Homo sapiens: one gene and its partner. The gene in region 1 interacts genetically with each later gene. Each region holds a gene or a part of one and is shown on either strand. Other genes may lie near its edges.

The links.
Region 2: changes in PCDH20 (region 1) and SPPL3 together harm fitness less than expected from each alone (positive genetic interaction), as found in Homo sapiens cells (one large-scale study listed by BioGRID).

Annotation. Positions count from the first base shown.
Region 1 is NC_000013.11:61,409,185-61,412,849, forward strand, and holds the end of PCDH20 (protocadherin-20 precursor), read right to left. Parts: coding exon 2,059-3,665; 3' UTR 501-2,058; downstream 1-500. UniProt on the Homo sapiens protein: Potential calcium-dependent cell-adhesion protein.
Region 2 is NC_000012.12:120,762,010-120,765,184, forward strand, and holds the end of SPPL3 (signal peptide peptidase-like 3), read right to left. Parts: intron 3,062-3,175; coding exon 2,990-3,061; 3' UTR 501-2,989; downstream 1-500.

The DNA.
Region 1 (3,665 bases):
AATAAAATATGACTAGTAAGAGATGTTTCCTCCATTGCTACATATCAGTTATAAATGAAAAGTTTTGGGGGTTAAATGATCTTAGTCTCTTAGCTCAGATGCCTCTCGTACAAAAGGAATTTCCAATAAAAATATATTTACTTTTTGTAACAAACATTGCTGCCTCATATACTTATTATTTTATTTATTGAAATTCTCAAATTGAAGAAAAATAAGATAAATGAGTTAATTAATACAAATCTAAAAGAACTTGGTTGTTTGCATTCAATGTCTTTTTTGTAGAGTATTTTTGTTTTAAAAATTATTGCAAGCTATTGCAACACAGCTAACAGAGGATTTGTTATAAATCTGTAGTAAAATGAAAATTTATAATGATATTAAATCTATAATAAATTAATATGCATGTGCACATACATGGGTGCAAATTTTCATATGAACTTACATCAAACATTTAGGCATACTCTCTTTCTACTATATATATGTCTATAACTACACACACATTTAATAATTTACCCAATGTTTAATTGAGTAATGAATTCATTTAATATAAACTTTAGTATAGCAGAATACTACAGGTTACCCACATTTAACCCTAAAAACAAACAAATGACAGGCACTTCAGTGAAATAACAAGCCCATGTTCAAATATAAAATGCTAAAAGTGAGAAAGAAATTATGAAAATATATACCTTTAATTTGCAGACATATAAACACTTTTGGTACAGTACAGATGCATGATGCCAAAAAGTAAAATGATCCAGTTTAAGCTAACACATTCCTTGTTTATACAGATTATTTTGCTATAGCTCTCATATAAAATAATATTTCCAGCTCACACAATGAATTGAAAGTGATAAATCACTGATGAAATAGCTTTCTTCATTGCAAGAGATTCAGTAAAAGCTAAATTATCAAAGAAATCTGCTGCAGGGCTTACAAATAAACTGTTGGATTTAATCCAAAACCAAAGAAAGGAAGCCAGAAATGGTAGTCAACAAACCTAAACAACAACAAAAAGATAAGTACAGTATAACTTTCATATAAAAGGCCCAACTAAAACAACCAGTAGTGTACACAAGCCTCTAGAAGAATTCACTTTTAATATGATTTCTATTTTCTTATGTGATGGATGATTTCAAGCCTATAAAAGTCTAATATATAACCCAAGTATAAAGTACGACCAACAAGTTGTGAAAGCACTAAAATGTCATGAATGCCTATGAAGCAACTAAAGATTGAAGCATTTCTTTGCTTCTGGCTGTTTTTCTTGGGCACAATATCTAGTTACATTTCCTGTAATGAAGAATATATATATGTATGTATAAATCTATTTCCCTTGTAATAATAACAAGTGCAGTGGTAAAGCAAACAGAAAGCAATTCGAGTACACAGAAAGTGGAATACTCTTCAGCAGGCTGAATCTGTAACACAAGGCAATGATTTTATCCTTGCTAAAAAGGAATTGCACTTCTTTTTAATGCCTTCTCTTTCACACTATATATGCACTTATGAGGTAATAAACATTCTGTTTACAAGTGCATTTCTTTTTTTATCATATGTTTAAATAGGGTGAAATTTAATTTACTTTAATTTCATATTTGTTTAATGTTAAAAACAATATATTTAAAATATACTCTTTCATTAATTTCATGTACAACTGCCAAGTACAATACCCCAGTTTCCTGCAAAGGAGCAGCTGATGCCCTCTTGTGGTGACAGGAATTTTTAGATAAAAATTTGTTCCATTTTTCTTACCTTACTCCCAGGTTTTATCAATCATCTGCTTGGTGTATGAAAGCTGCAAACCATGTCCAAGCTTTTTTTTTTTTTTTAAATACAAGTCCTATAGCTGTTAGTACTAATTTTCACTTAAAAATGCTGTACACATTTTATAACCTCTGAATTTAAATTTAAAAACCTGTAAACAGCTATTTACAATATAGAACAAGTTATAAATTAGTTGTCCTTCATTGGAACTGCCATCAACACACTCTTTTTTAGGTGATGAAGATCCAAAGTCAGTTAAAACATTTCTCTGTGTTATTCCACCATGAAATATCAAATATTAGAAATATCCATTGGCTTTCTCTCTCGCATATGCAAGTCAATTTTTCCTTTCAGTGGAATCTGTACTTCCAAATTTTCATCTTCCCTGGGATGCTTTTCCCCTTTCCTTAAACAGATGTATATGCCCATCCCTGTGACCAGTGTGATGGAACCCAAGCTTATTACAGACAGAGCTACTAAGGTGGGCATACAAGACACAGATTCTACCTTCCTATGAGTCGGTTCTATTGAGATTTGTGGTTCTTTCTCCTCTATATTAATCTCTGGTTCTTTTCTTAAAAGACTCTCAATGTAACTCTCATTACTGACAGTGTCATTGACAAATAGGTTCACCATGACTGTGGAGTGGAGAGGCTCGGGATAACCATGATCACTCACTTTCACCAGTAAGCGATGGAGCCCATAATCTGTCTGCAGCAATGCCTCTTCCAAAGTAATGTTGCCAGTTTTAGGGTCAATCCTGAAGGACTCAGGCCTAGGACCTCTTCTCCCTATGATGCTGTAAGCTATGACAGCATTCATGCCTGTGTCTTTGTCGACAGCATAGACTTCTGTAACCGGGGAGCCTGGCAGAGTAGAAGGCAGTACTAACAGATAAGACATATTAGACTGAGGAAACAAAACAAGAGGAGGGTTGTCATTGATATCTAGAAGGAGAATTGTGATTTTTGCTGTAGAGGAGAGGGCAGGCTCACCCCCATCAACAGCTTCAACCCACAAAGTATAGGAGCTTTGCTGCTCTCTGTCCAAAGAGACTTTAGCCCTCAGCATACCCTTTCCTGTATCTATGACAAAAATATCACTCTGGTTCACCACAGAGAGGGCGACCCATCCATTTCGTCCAGCGTCAGCATCTGTTACACTAATTACTCCAATCTCACCATAGCCTGGAAAGTTTTCAGGCACAAAAAAGCTGAAGTCCTTGTTGATAAACCGAGGACTGTTGTCATTTTTATCCAACACTGTGAGGGCCACAGTGGCTACTGATTCTCTGGGTGGCTTCCCACAGTCAACAGCTCTGACAGTGTATCTGTACTTTTCTTTCTCTTCTCGGTCCAGCTGAGTAGAAACTGTCAGAATTCCTGTGACACTGTCTAAGGAAAAATATGATGGAGCATCAGGTCCCAGAAAATATGAAACTTGGCCTCTCTCCTCGCTGTCGGCATCTGTAGCATACAGCTTAGTCAAAAAGGCATTGGGTGAGTTGTTCTCTTCGATGGTTAGTTCTATTAAGGGTTGAAGGAAAATTGGAGCATTATCATTGTCATCTAAAAGTTGCACTTTAATGACCCTTTTGACATGAAATCCCTCAGAGTTCCAAGCCACCACAGCTACTTCATAGAACTGCTGTAGCTCATAGTCCATAGGTTTTGTGGTCTCTAGTAAATATTCATTATTGTATGGTTTGTAAGGTGATAACCTAAACGGCCCTTCACCATCCAGGTAGCAGTTAACCTTGTATTTACCTTCTGGATCTCTTATGGTGAAAAACGCAATGGGAGTGTTAACGGGTTCCAGTTCTTTCAGATAAACCACACCATCTATCTCGTTTGCTATGTAACGAGGGACAATTTCAGGGGGTCTGAAAATAACTTTAA
Region 2 (3,175 bases), on another chromosome or scaffold:
TGCACTGTAATAACAGCAATGGAACACACTAGGCTTTGGACAGACTTTACTGTCATATCTTCATTAGCTCAAACTAGAAAAAAGAGTTATTAAAAAGCGGGAGTTCTAGTAACACACAGTCTCTTTGTGAGGAAAAAGGACTTCAGATCAGTGAGGAAGGAATCTGCTGAAATTTCATGAGCATGCCATGCCTAATGCAGCAGACTTCCTAGAAAACCCCTAAACCATGGTATTTGAGAAAACAGAATAAGAGGCGGACCTAAGTGTATCAGGCAGCGGGGAGCAAACGAGCACTGGAAGGGAAGTCTAATGTGTGCTTTAACTGCAGCCACCCACTCAACCCTCCGAGACGAGTAGAGTATTTGCTGTTTCTCTGCCAAAGTTTTAAGGGAGTGTTTTAAGGGCTTTGAAGATTAGCAACTGGAATCCAGGGTGCATTCACAGCCCTGTGTGGGTATTTCCCCCCAAAACCTGCACAGAAGTGAGAATGACAAAATAACGACGTTCCTTCTGTCTGGAATTTAATTTTCTTATGAAAACAAAGACAGAAAAATTAAAATGACCCACTGCCAGGATAACATTTCCTTTTTTTTTTTTTTTTTGAGATGGAGTCTCACCCTGTCGCCCAGACTTGAGTGCAGTGGCGCAATCTCTGCTCACTGCAACCTCCGCCTTCCAGGTTCAAGCGATTCTTCTGCCTCAGCCTCCCAAATAGCTGGGATTACAGGCGCCTGCCACCATGCCCAGCTAATTTTTGTGTTTTTAGTAGAGACGGGGTTTCACCATGTTGGCCAGGCTGGTCTCGAGCTCCCAACCTTGTGATCCACCTGCCTCGGCCTCCCAAAGTGCTGGGATTACAGGCATGAAGGATAACGTTATTTCTACCCATCACTGGCACTTGCCCTTAATCCGAGTCATTTTGGAGCCCCCCTCTCTGTCTCTGGGCCTGCTTAATTAGCTATATGCATCCTCGAGGGCTGAGAAGGAAGGAAGGGAGAGTCCGCAAGTGGATTTTTAGTCTTCACCCAATGCAGAGGCAGTTTTGAGTTCTGTGGACAGCAGAAGCTTCAGTTCTTTGATGTATCTATGACTGGGCCAGAGCTGCAGATGACCAGGTCTGGGGACAGACAGAGTCTTCCCATCAGTCTTCCAGAACAGGGAGGAGATGGCTGGGAGCTCTGTTTGGTACCAACAACCAAAGTGAAGATTATGTGACAAAGGCTACAAAGGAGTCATTTATTAAAAACAAAACCCCAGAAACCCCTCAGCAGGAATTGATGACAACAACAGAGGAATCCAACACCCTGACTGCTTCAGACTCTGTTGACAACAGGATGGGTGCCCCCTGTGAGCTCGATCCACAGTGACTTCAAGCCACAGTGACACAGCACACTAATTCATTACACAGGTCAAGACAGAGGCAGCCACTGGGGCGGGGACCCTTGGGGAGAGGCTGGAACTCAGGGCCCTTCTCCAGCCTTTGTTGTCAGGCATCCTCATGCCAACCGCAGGCTTCTCTTTGCCTCTGAACAATGGGCACCTTCTTACCAGGCAGGGGCTGCTTAGGTAAAGGTCAGCAGACCTAACACTAGTTACTCCCAGAAATCTGGGCTTGCAGCAGAGACCACAGCACAGGGCCAGGCTCTCAGGACACAGCAGCTGGTTCTTTCCCCAGTTACTGGAATTTAGGGCCCATCTCAGAGGGGCATTTGACATGTGTCCCCAACACCCGGTTGTCACCACAGGTAAACCAAGACTATAATCACAACAGCAAGGACAGGATTGTGTTGCTTTTTTCCTTTTTTTTTTTCTTAAAGGAGTGAGGGCATGGAAAATATACAGCACACCAATGAAACAAAATGTCAAAAAAAAAAATACAAAAAAATAGAAAATAGAAAAATGTATTTACAAGTAGTACGTTACTATGATGAGAAAGCACAAAGACACCTGCTGCTATAATACATGCATTGGCTCGAGAAGAAACTACGGAACACCCTGCGAGGGAGAAGCCTAGAAAAGAAAGAAAGGGCCAAAAGGTTTGAACTCTTCATCCCTAATTTGCTACACTGATCAAAACCAAGTAAGGGCTCCTGAAGTCCATGAGTCTATCATCAATCAGCACAAATGCTATACTAGTTTGTAACTGCGGGGTCAGTTGTGAAGGGGAAGGACAGCAGCTTATCCATATACAAGGAAGCCACAGTAAACTGCTCGACATGCTCAAAACGACAGCAAGCCCCTGTCAGCTACACAGCGTGATCTTAGCAGGATTTCATTTTTGTTTATTCATATATATCTATGTGTGTGTTTATATATATATATGTACGTATGTATAAAAACCGTGCCCTTGTTCACTGCCAACACAACATCTGGGTGGACATGAACTCATTACAACAAATTCTTATGTGGATGTTGTAAGAAGTCACTCAATGTCTGTGGATTTAATAAGTCACTTCACACCACAGAAAATATTTAATAAATCCAAAAAAAGGAAAGAAGAATATAACGACAGAAGAGCTTCTGTCTCAGTTCTCTGAAACTGAGTCCCCTATAGGAAACTGGTCCCAAAGTTCTCGAGGGGTCATTGAAGAAACTTCGGTTTGCTAATTTTTTTCATCCTTTTAGTGTTCAAAAGTTCTAGAAAGACTCCTCGCTGTTTTCAGTTTTTAAACAGTCAAATCTCCATCTCCCCCAGAAGGTAACAGTCTGGTGCAGATCCATAAAAACGTGGGAGGAAGGCGCGCTGGGGAGAGGCCTGTCCCTCTTGGAAGGGGCCCCACCTCTACATCCGCAGGAAGAGAAGGAACCAAACAGGGCTCCAGCACCTCTCTCCTGCAAACGAGCTCCCTTTAAATGCCAAATCCAGTCACACGGCAGTTCCTTAAACACAGGTACATTTCTGAGTACCAGGCCAGCTCTAAGAGGAAACAAACCATGAGTTGAGAGAAAAGGACTATGACGGCCATCTGGTCACTTTCCACGTGATCCATCATACTTCCAGGAATCGGGAGCTGCTGGACTTGGAGTGGAAAGGCTCAGACCACATCCGCCGGAGGTCGCCCTGGGAAACAAGGGACTTTCTAAGTTACAGATTTAAACATGAGGCACACACAGCTGTCTGATTCTTTAAAAAAAAAAAATTTTTTTTCCAGGTATGAAGTCTTCCTATATATTG